Homo sapiens: one gene and its partners. The protein of the gene in region 1 purifies or fractionates together with the protein of each later gene. This does not show direct contact. Each region holds a gene or a part of one and is shown in the gene's direction. Other genes may lie near its edges. The genes, in order: CCN6, COL6A2 and FRAS1.

Region 1 (3,654 bases):
GGGGCAGTTTTGGGAGTGTGCATTTCATTAGAAAGAACACATGAAAAAGCAGGGAGGAGAAAACCAACCCAGGGAGTCCAGCAAATGGCAAGTCATGGAAGGAGAGTGTGTGAGAGCTAAAGCTCAAGAGGTAGGCAGGAGAGGGCTTTGGATAACTGGCTCAGAAGTTTAGGCTGCACAGTATGGACTATGGGGAACCCCTGATGGGCTTTAAGGAGAGGAGTAATACAACCAGACATGTTCTTTAAAGAGATTCCTCCAGGAGCAACATAGTAGATGCACTTGAAAAGTCATTCTGGAGGGAGGAAGGTCAGTCAGGAACTCGTAGTGACGGTGCTTACTTAGTAGCAATGAAATGGGGAAAAGCATCTAGTTCTGGGAAGACGAGGACAATACAATACATAGGAGAGGGTCACTGAATCGTCATAGGAGGTGAGAGGGAGGAAGACAACCCAGATGAATCCAGCTTCCTGACTCCAAACTTTGAAGAGTGAAAAATGATGACTTTTGGACTTGAGTATTTCCTGGAGGACATTTGGGTGGAGATGTCCAGTAGGTAGTTATCTCACGGGTCCAGGGCTCAGTGGAGAAGTCCAGGCTGGAAATTTAGTTTTGAAACTTGCATAGGATGAAAACTGAAGGCAAGGGTGTGGGTGAGATTGCCAAGACACAGTGTAGAATGAGGCAAGCAATACATTAAAGCTATGAAACACCAATAGGCCTAAATTTAAGTCAAATTCAGGGTAACAGGAGCCTGCGGAGGAGATTGAGAAAGTGCGTTGAAAAGTAAGGGGAGGACTGGGGGGACCAGATGTAATGAAATCCAAGGTAGAGGAGAGTTAAATGCCTTAGAGAGGTGGGGCAAGAGGAGGACTGAAGAGGGTTCACGGATGTGAGACCAGCAAAGAGGCCACTGAACCTGGCATCCTGAATCACTGGTGGCTATAGCTGAACCTGTGCAAAACTGAGATGGAGGCAAAATTTTTTTAAGTTTAAAATTTTTTTAGGATTCTAGCTTCACTATTTCTACTCCCTTCTCCATTTTGATGTTTCCTTTTCCCCTGCTCCTTCTCCAGAAGCCCAGCAGTGTCCTATCCTCCCCATCAAAACCCATTCTCACGTTGTGCATGTAACTTTTGAATCACAGCTGAAACGTTACTCTTTACTGAGGCATATGTGTTTTACCAGTAGTAAGAAAAAAGGCTGAGGGTTTAATATTGGGTGGAATTTCCTACAGATACTTCTAAATGTAGAATTTTTGAGCTGCAAATGGACTTAGATCTAGTAATCAATTCAACAGTCCCTGGTTCCATCAAATAAACATTAAGAGTTATTTACATAAGCAAATTGCCAGGCACTGTGCTAGGTGCTGGTGGTATACTCACAAACAAACCACAAGCACCTGAGGTTGGGTGGCTTTACGGCTAGTGGAAGAGATAGGCACTTACATGGGTAATTTCAGTTTAAAAATGTGTGCAAGGCAGGGAAGTTATAGGAACCTTTCTGGAAAAGATGATACTGAAACAGAACCTTGAAGTATCCTTTAACTAGATGAAGAAGGAGCTGGGTCTGGGCAGAATGTCCCAGGCAGGAGGAACAGCATCATATATGCAGGGAACTACAGGCACTTTAACTTTCTGGAACCTAATGCATACAAGAACTGCAAGACACGAGGAGGGCCCTGAATGCTGTGCATAAGTGCTTGCACATTTCCTGTAGGTCAGACACTTTCACGTGTGAAGGATGAGGGAGAGGAAGAAATCCAGATGGTTTTCAGCTTCCTGACTAGGGGACCTGAGTGGATGGTGACGCCATTCACTAAAATGGGAACTGCTAGTTGAGGAGCAGTTTGTCAGGGGGAGGGTACTTGTAGAACCTCAAAGTGCATATGTACCATAGCAACTAATAAGTTGTAAGCTTAAGGGATGAGGTCTAGGCTGGAGAAATAGATGCAGAGATTTGGTGATTTGTTCTGTATCAAAGCTGGGTTGCAGTATGATTTGGACTAGGAAAGGAAGGAGGGTAAGTGTTGAGAGCTTAGGCTCTGGAACCTGCCTGCCTGATTTAAATCAGTCTTCTATCACTTACTTGATATGTCACATAGGACAACTTAAATAATTTGAGTCTCAGGGTCCTCATTTACAAAATGGAGTATACAGTTTCCTATTGCTGCTGTAAGAAATCACCAACTTGAATGGCTTAAAACAACATGATTATCTACAGTTCTGGACATCTGATGTCCAAAAATGGGTCTTACAGGGCTAAAATCAAGCGTTGGCAGGACTGCCTCCCTTCTGGAGGTGGCAGGGGAGAATCCATTCTTTGCCTGTTCCAGCTTTTAAAGGCTGTCTGGCTTCCTTGGACCATGACCCATTTCAGCAACGGCATCGCTCCTACCTCTGCTTCTGCCATCACATCTTCTCTGACATGCCTGCCTCCTTCCCCAGTGGACCCAATGTACTTGTGATTACCTTGGGCCCACCTGGATAATCGAGAGTGATAACCTCAAGATTCTTAAGTTGATCACATATGCAAAAATCCCCTTCAATGTTTTAGGTAACATATATGCACAGACTCCAGGGATTAGGACATGGACATCTTTGAGGGGACCACTATCTGCCTATCACATGGTATAATCACCACTGCACGCTGTTGCTATGAAGTTTGATTGAAATAACCATGTAAAGTGATTTATAAAGATGGCAGTCATCAAGACAGACATTAGGCAAAGATCTTGCTTTCAAGATGCTCACATTCTTGGTGCAGGTATCAGAAAGTAAACAACTGAAATGTGTAGGTAATAAGAAAGGTGGTAAACTCTACGGTGAAAGGACTGGGATAGGGTGCCCTTTCACAAAGAGTGGTCAAAGAGGGCCTCACTGAGAAATTTGAGCACAGACCTAAAGAGAGTAAAAGAGTGAGCCATGAAGATATCTAGGGGCAGAGTGTGCTTGGAGTCAGAGAACAAGGACGCTGGTGTGGCTGGTGTGGAGGCAGCAAGGGGGTGAGTGGCAGTGGGCAAAGTAATATGGGGAGGGGGGACCACAGGATGCAGGGCCATGGTGGCACTTTGAATTTTACATGGAAATGGGAGGCCATGAGGAAGTCACTCCATATGAGCAAAGAGTGATATGAACTGGCTTATTTTTAAAGAATCATTCTGGATGTCAAGTGGACAAAGGAGCAAGGAAGGTGAACACTCAGGAGGCTATTGTAATCATCCAAGTGAACAATGATGACTTGGATTATGATGGTAACAGAGAAGGTATCAATAAATGATCAAGGTGGGTATTTTTAAAGGTGTAATAAACAGGATTTACTGATGGAATTAGATGTAAAATATGAAAGAGAAGAGTCAAGCATGATCTGATCTCAAGGTATTTTGGAAATATATTGGCATTTGCTTAAATAGGGAAGTGTGTGGAAGAGCAGAGTGGAAGGGGAAGCTTGGGAGCTTGTTTTTGGTCATATTAAATTTGCTATACCTATTAAACATCAAAGTGGAGATGTTAAGTAGGCAGTTTGAGTCTGAGTTCAGAAGAGGGGTATGAGTTGGAGATAAGAGATATAGTGAGGGAAGATACTTTAGAGGCCTTATCCATGGGGCTCTGAGGTTTACAGATTAAGAGGATGAGAAGAAACTGACAAAGGAGA
Region 2 (3,654 bases), on another chromosome or scaffold:
ACAAGGGTCCAGTTTCTCCACATCTGCACCAACAGGTGTCATTTTCCGGGTTCGCTTGGTTTTTTTTAAATGTTAACCATCCTAATGGGTGTGAGGTGGTATCTCACTGTGGTTTTGACTTGCATTTCCCTCATGATTAGTGACGTTGAGCATCTTTTCATGTGCTTGTTGGCCATTTATATATCTCTTGGGAGAAATATCTGTTTAAGTCCTTGACCTATTTTTGAATCAAGTTGATTGTTTTTTGTTGTTGAATTTTAGGAGTTCTCTGTATATTCTGGATATTAATCCCTTATTAGATACACAGTTTACAGATATTTTCTCTCATTCTCTGGGTTCTTTTTACTCTGTTAATGATGTCCTTTCACTAGATAGATGCAAAAAATGTTTTTAAATTTTGGTGTAATCTGATTTATCTATTTTTTCTTATTGTCATACCCAAGAAATCATTGCTCAGTCCCATGTCACGAAGGTGTTACCTTATGTTTTCTTCTAAGGGTTTTAAAGTTTTAGGTCTTAAAACGTAAAGATCCATTTTGAGTTAATTTTTGTATATGGTATTAGGTAAGGGTCTAACTTCATTCTTTTGCATGTGGATATCTAGTTGTCTCTGCACCGTTTGTTGAAAAGACTGTCTTTATCGAATGGTCTTGACGGCTTGATTGAAAGTCATATATGCAAGGGTTTCTTTCTGGACTCTCTGTTTTATTCTGTTGGTCTGTATGTCTGTCTTTATGCCAGTGCCACACTGTTGATGACTGCAGCTTTGTAGTAAGTTTTGAAATTAGGACATGTGAGTCCCCCAGCTTTGTTCTTATCTTTCACGATTTTTTTTTTTTTTTTTTTTTTTTTTTTGGCTATTCGAGGTCCCTTGAGATTCCATCTAAATTTTAGGATTTATTCACTATTTCTGAAAAAAAAAACAATCACTGGGATTTTTATAGGGATTACATTAAACCTCTAGATCAATTTGGGTGGTATTGACATCTTAATATAGTAAGTCTTCCAATCTATGAACATGAATGTCTTTTTTTAAATGTCCTCTTCAATTTCTTTCAGAAATGTTTTGTAGTTCTCATTGTACAGGTCTTTCACCTCCTAAGTCAATTTTTAAGTATTTTATTATTTTTGATACTATAGTAAATAGAATTGTTTTCTTAATTTCCTTTGGATTGTTCATTGTTAGTGAATAGAAATACAAGTGATTTTTATGTGTTTACTATGTATTCTGCTATTTTGCTGAATTTGTTTATTAGTTGTAACAGTTTTTGTGGAATTTTTAGGGTTTTCTACATACAAGATCATATCATCAGTGATCAGAGATAATTTACTTATTTCTTTCCAATTTGAATGCCTTTAATTTCTTTTTCTTGCCCAATTGCTCTGGCCAGAACTTCCAGTACAGTGTTAAATAGAAGTAGTGAAAGCAGGCATCCTTCCTTTATTTCTGACCTTAGAGGAAAAGCTTTCAGTCTTTCACCACTGAGTATGATGTTCACTGTGGCTTTTTCGTATAATATGGCTTTTATTATGTTAAGGTTGTTTCCTTCTATTCCTAATTTGTTGAGTGTTTTTATCATGAAAGGGTATTGAATTTTGTCATATGGTTTCTCTGCATCAACTGCAATGATCATGTGTGAGTTTTTTTTCCTCCTTCATTCTGTTAATGTGTATTACATTGATTGATTTTTTTTTTTTTGTATGTTGAACTATCCTTGCACTCCAGAAATAAATCCTACTTGGTCAATTCATTAAATTCCATTTAATTGCATCAAATTATACCAAATTTAGTTTACTATTAATAGTATTTTGTTTAGGATTTTTGCATCAATGTTCATAAGGAAGACTGGATTGTAGTTTTCTTTTCTTGCAATATCTTTGTCTGGTATTGGTATCAGAGTAATGCTGGCCTCATAAGAATGAGTTAAATAGTGTTCCCTTCTCTTCAAGTTTTTTGAAAATTTTGGGAGGGTTTGGTGTTAGTTCTTTATGTGTTTGGTAGAATTCACCAGTGCAGCCATCAGGTCCAGAGGTTGTTTGTCAGGAGATTTTTGAGTATTGATTCAATCTCCTTACTAGTTATGTCTATTCAGATTTTCTATTTCTTCATGATTTGATTTTGTCTTGATAGGTTTTGTCTGTCTGGAAATTTTTCCATTCCATCTGTGTTATTCAAATTGTTGACATATAGTTGCTTATAGTACACTCTTATAATCTTTTTTATTTCTGTAGAATTAGTAGCAATGTTGCCACTTTCACTTATAATTTTAGTAATTTGAGTTTCTTCTTTTTTTCTTAGTCTAGAATCTAGCTTAAGGCTGGTCAATTCTGTTATCTTTTCAAAGAACCAACTTTTGTTGTCATTGATTTTCTCTATTATCTGTCTGTTCTCCATTTTGTTTATCTTTGCTCTGATCTTTATTTTTTCCTTCTTTCTGCTAGCTTGTTCTTTTTCTAGTTCCTTACATTGTAAGGTTAAGCTCCTATTTGAGACCTGTCTTTTTTAATATAAGCATGTATAGCCATCAGTTTCCCCCTTAGCACTGCTTTCACTGTCGAACAAGTTTTTAAATTTGTGTTTTCATTTTCACTCATCTCTAAGTATTTTATAATTTCCCTTGTGATTTCTTCTCTGATCCTTGGTTATTTAACAGGGTGTTGTTTAATTTCGTGATTTTTTAAATGTCCTTGTTGCTGATTTTTAACTTTACTCCTTTGTGGTCTGAAAAGATATCTTGTATGATGTAGATCTTTCAAAATCTATTGACACAGACTTTGTTGTTGCAACTAACCCCGTCATTGCAAGCCCTTCTCCGTCTGGTTGAAGTGACTTCCAGGAGATTTAAAGGGCTGGCACCCTTTTCTCCCTTCATTTTTCTCTTTTTCCTCTTTTGAGACGTAGACATTGAAGACTAGCACATTCAAAAGCAACCATATATGTGGAGAAAATAAAAAAGTCATTGCACATGCTCAGGGGAAGTCACGGGCTTAGAAAAGACCTAAGAAGACCTTAAGTTTATACTTTATGCTGATCCTTAGCACAGAGACAGCAACAATCAAAATTATAAAAACAAGAAAAACCAGCAAACTCTGGGGAAGAAAGAGATTTTGATTTCACAAGGCATACAAAGAAACTTTCCTATTTCAAAGGAAAAAAAAACAACAGAAACTGTCACTGAAAAAGACTTGGTGGTAGATCTACTAGACAAAGGCTTTGAAAGAACTATCTTAAAGATACTCAAATAACTAAGGGAAAATGTGGAGAAAGTGAAAGAAAATGTAGGAACAAATGAAAATATCAATAAAAAGCTAGAAATTTTAAAAAGAAACCAAAGGGAAATTCTGGAGCTGAAAAGTACAATAACTGAAATTTAAAATTCACTAGAGAAATGCAAAGGCAGATTTCAGCAGGCAGAATAAAGAATCAGGGAACTTGAAGATACAAAAATGGAAATTATTGAGTCTGAGGAGCAGAAATAAAAAGATTGAATAAAGGTGATCAGAGCCTAAGGGGTCTGTGGGATACCATCAAGCAAACCAACATAAACATTGTAGGAGCCCCAGAAGAAGAGAGAGCAAAGGGAGCAGAGAGACTATTTGAAGAAATAATGGCTGAAAACTTCTAAAATATGATGAATGACATGAATATAACCA
Region 3 (3,654 bases), on another chromosome or scaffold:
GATCTTTTTTTTCACAGAGCTTCAGGATTTTATTTTAAAATCTGACAGAAACATTTATTTTAACAACTACTATACTTTTGGTGCTTGGAAAAATAAGTTTTGTCTGTAATACATTAGAAGAATAAACTAGGTTTGTTGGTGTGGTAATCTATGAAGCTGTCGTTACATCCCTGGGTTAATTCACAGTGAGTCTTTTTTCTCACAGAGGATGTGAACTTGGGGTTGATTCGTTATGTGTTGCACAAGGAGAAGATCCGTGAGATGATGGATAGTTTTCAGTTTCTGGTGAAAGACAGTAAACCCAATGTGGTCAGCGACAATGTCTTCCATATCCAGTGGTCACTCATCAGCTTTAAATATACCAGGTACAAGTTTTACTGTGCTTTCCTTCTTGAGAAATCAATCAGGCAAGCAGAGGGAGTCAGGATGAAGGATGCTGGGGGGCAGCTCTAGTCACCTCTTGATGGCGGTGATGGTGATGATGGCAGTGATAAAAGTAATAATTTCACCAAATATTTATTGAGTACTGTATGTATTAGGTGCTGCACTAGGACTCGACATGCATCATCTTATATAATACTTGGAATTCTGAGATGAATTCCATTCCTGTCTCCACAGTGGCAAAGTAATAGAGACAGAAACTTGTTTATGTAACTTGTCCACAGTCACATAGCTAATAAGAAGTAAGACCAGGATGTAAGCCCAGTGATCTTAACGATGTGCTCTACTGCTGCTCAGACAAATGTTTTTGCTTCTGTCTCTTCAAGTTTTAGAAGAGAGTCTAGTAGAACTGATAGGAAAAATAAAAATAGGCATTCAAGTTTGGAAAATAATCACTGGCCCACACTATCAATATCTTCACCTTCCATCTGTATTCTCCTTGTTCCCAACCCTGTTTTCTCCCCTGGCTTCTTTGGGTTTGGTAGGAATGTATATCTGTAGGGCTAAATGCATGGCTTAATGTGGACAGCCCTTTAAGATGCTTTTCTAATCTGTTGGAGAGTTAGAAAGGCAAACAGAGAGATACTGATTGTTAAAGGTAGTGTGCAAGCATGGTGCTGATTTTATAGGTTAGATTATAACTAGGATTATAATTTATGTGGGGGAAATATTCTTTAAGTCTACATTTCAGAGACTCACTATCCAAGAAATCAACTTCATGAAAATTCAGATAAAAATTGGAACTTGGGGGAAAAAAGGAAGACTTAAAACCTTGATTTCATGTGCCCCAAATTCAGGCTATTCTACTCTTACACACATTTGGAGAATTAGAGGAAAATTAGAATCAACTTTTACATATGTAATGTTTTGCTGTTATTTACCTCTCAATTGTATCACCTTCAAAATTCAATAAATTCAATAAAATTCATCCCTTTTTCTGGACAACCCTCTAACATTTAATGGACTAAGTGGTATAGACGGTCCCAAAGCTGGCAATGAGGACTGAGCTCTCAGAGTCACTTTCCCTGCTGTCCTCACAGCAACAAGACATGCACCCAGGTCTAGGGGCCATCCTCAGTGGTGAAAAACAAAGCCCAGCTCATGCCCTACTTTCTGTGGCCTTTCCAAACCTAGATACTTATTATGAATCAATAGCATATGAATAGTTGGCCTTCTACTTTACAAATGCAATAGAGATTCTGAGCAGCAAGCTAAATTAATCATGTCCTTCCCCCATTGTCATAAAGTTCTATTTGTCTAAACATCTCTGTTATGTAGGCTTACCTCACATTTTCTTACCTCTGCTTCTGCTCTGACTCCATCACACAGTTCCTGGAGATCTGGTCCAGTCAGTTCCCACCTAAGTCATTGATTGCCTTCAGAGCAGCTTTCTTCCCTAAGAACCCACTGACCTATTGTGATTACTCAACCCCAGGAGGGAGAGATTGTTTTTCCTTTCTCTGTGCCCTGAAATCTGAAGTTCATTGCTCCTATGTGCTGTCCATCTCCCAAAATGACTCTTAGCTTGCTTGCAAAGCAGGGAAGACGACATTCTGCATCCACAGCTTCCCTGTTTGTTTCGTGCTCTGATTGTTCAGGTGAACTCATTCCCTCAATTTACAGCCTGGATTCTTAGAGGAACCAAACTTCCTCTTCTCTGACTACCTAATGCCAAGAACCAAATGGAAGAGACAGGCATTAAACAAGTTGTTTTTTCATAACCATGGGGCATAGTTTAAGAGATGCCTTTTTGTGTGCTTCCAGCTACAATGTCAGTGAGAAGGCAGGGTCTGTCAGTGTCACGGTGCAGAGGACTGGGAACCTGAACCAATATGCCATCGTCCTGTGTCGCACCGAGCAAGGCACCGCCAGCTCCAGCTCCAGGGTCAGCTCCCAACCTGGGCAACAGGACTATGTAGAGTATGCTGGCCAGGTAGGTGGGGTAGTGGGGTTGGGGGAGGCTCCAGCAAGGGCTGTGACATGGCTGCAAGCAATTGTGGCACTTTCCTACTTCTTCCCAACTTTGCTTTTCACTGGTGTCCTTCTTCAAGTATTAAATAGTTTTCCTATGTTCCCCTCCCATAGTACTTTGTTCTTCACAGTCTCTCTAACCTCCATTGAAGTTTTAACTGCCAAAGGGGAAGTTGTTGTCTAGCTTCTCAGTCTTTACATTTTGCTTCATGACAAAAAGAAGTCTCCAAGCATCATGTTCTATATTCAGCTTTGGTATCCCAACCGTTCTTCTCCTCTCACCTTCTTTACCTAAAGGGAGAGAAGAGAGTGTGTAAGGAGACTGGTTGGGAATCCCTTGGGGTAGGCTGGCTGAGATGATGGGAGCTTGGGCTTCGATTATGAAGTGAAGTTTGAGAGAAGCGGATGGATTTGACAGATGAGTGAGAATTGATAGGATTTGGCAGTGGATTGATTAGACAGTGGGGCCATTTGAAAGATGGATGATGATGCCTCTTGCTAGGAAGGGACATATAAGAGGAGCCGGTTGGGCAAGGTTTGGTGCTCGTGACTTTGCTTTGGCTATGTTAGGTATAAATTGTCTTAGAAAGAGCAGGTTGACCACTGTATAGATGGGCAGGCAGTGCAGAGAGGAGTCTGGTGTCCAGAGAGAAATTTGCAAGTCATCTACATACCAGTGGTAATTAAAGGTGGCAATGAGAAAGAAAAAGGAGAGAGTGAAAGTGGAAGAGAAAGGAGGACTTAAATAGTCAACTTAAATAGTCAACAAATACAGGGCCCCATGTATTTGTCATCTTTTATGGAGGGCACAATGTCTGACACTTAATTTTTTTTTCAAAGCAACTTTATTGTTATTATGGCAACACAGATCTCTGTAAAGAGAAGTGGGCTCTGTTCTTTAATTGAGGCATTTCAGCTGGACTAAGCTAATGTCTCTAATGTCAAATGTAAGTGAGGAATTAGGAAAGAACAGATAAGCTAATGTCTTTCAGCTAAATGATAAGACGGAGGATATTCTTGTGTTTTTCAGGGAAAGACAGAAGACTGTCAGTGTATTCTAGATCTTACATAAAGATCTGTTGAGTGTTTCATTTCACTGGGAGTGTTTTAAAATATGAAGCTTAATAAAAGTGTTATTAGTTGATTAGATATATACTAATAATTTTCTGTTTGAGTAAAATTTTTGCAGATTTGTGTGTCCCCAGACATTTATGTCTGTTTTTTGTACATATTTCAGTTATC

What was found.
Region 2: the proteins of CCN6 (region 1) and COL6A2 purify together in Homo sapiens (affinity purification with mass spectrometry; one large-scale study listed by BioGRID and IntAct). This does not show direct contact.
Region 3: the proteins of CCN6 (region 1) and FRAS1 purify together in Homo sapiens (affinity purification with mass spectrometry; one large-scale study listed by BioGRID and IntAct). This does not show direct contact.

What each region holds. Positions count from the first base shown.
Region 1 is NC_000006.12:112,057,089-112,060,742, forward strand, and holds part of CCN6 (cellular communication network factor 6 isoform 1 precursor), read left to right. Parts: intron 1-3,654. UniProt on the Homo sapiens protein: Plays a role in mitochondrial electron transport and mitochondrial respiration. Through its regulation of the mitochondrial function may play a role in normal postnatal skeletal growth and cartilage homeostasis.
Region 2 is NC_000021.9:46,101,021-46,104,674, forward strand, and holds part of COL6A2 (collagen alpha-2(VI) chain isoform 2C2 precursor), read left to right. Parts: intron 1-3,654. UniProt on the Homo sapiens protein: Collagen VI acts as a cell-binding protein.
Region 3 is NC_000004.12:78,473,233-78,476,886, forward strand, and holds part of FRAS1 (extracellular matrix organizing protein FRAS1 isoform 1 precursor), read left to right. Parts: intron 1-205; coding exon 206-365; intron 366-2,205; coding exon 2,206-2,374; intron 2,375-3,654. UniProt on the Homo sapiens protein: Involved in extracellular matrix organization. Required for the regulation of epidermal-basement membrane adhesion responsible for proper organogenesis during embryonic development. Involved in brain organization and function.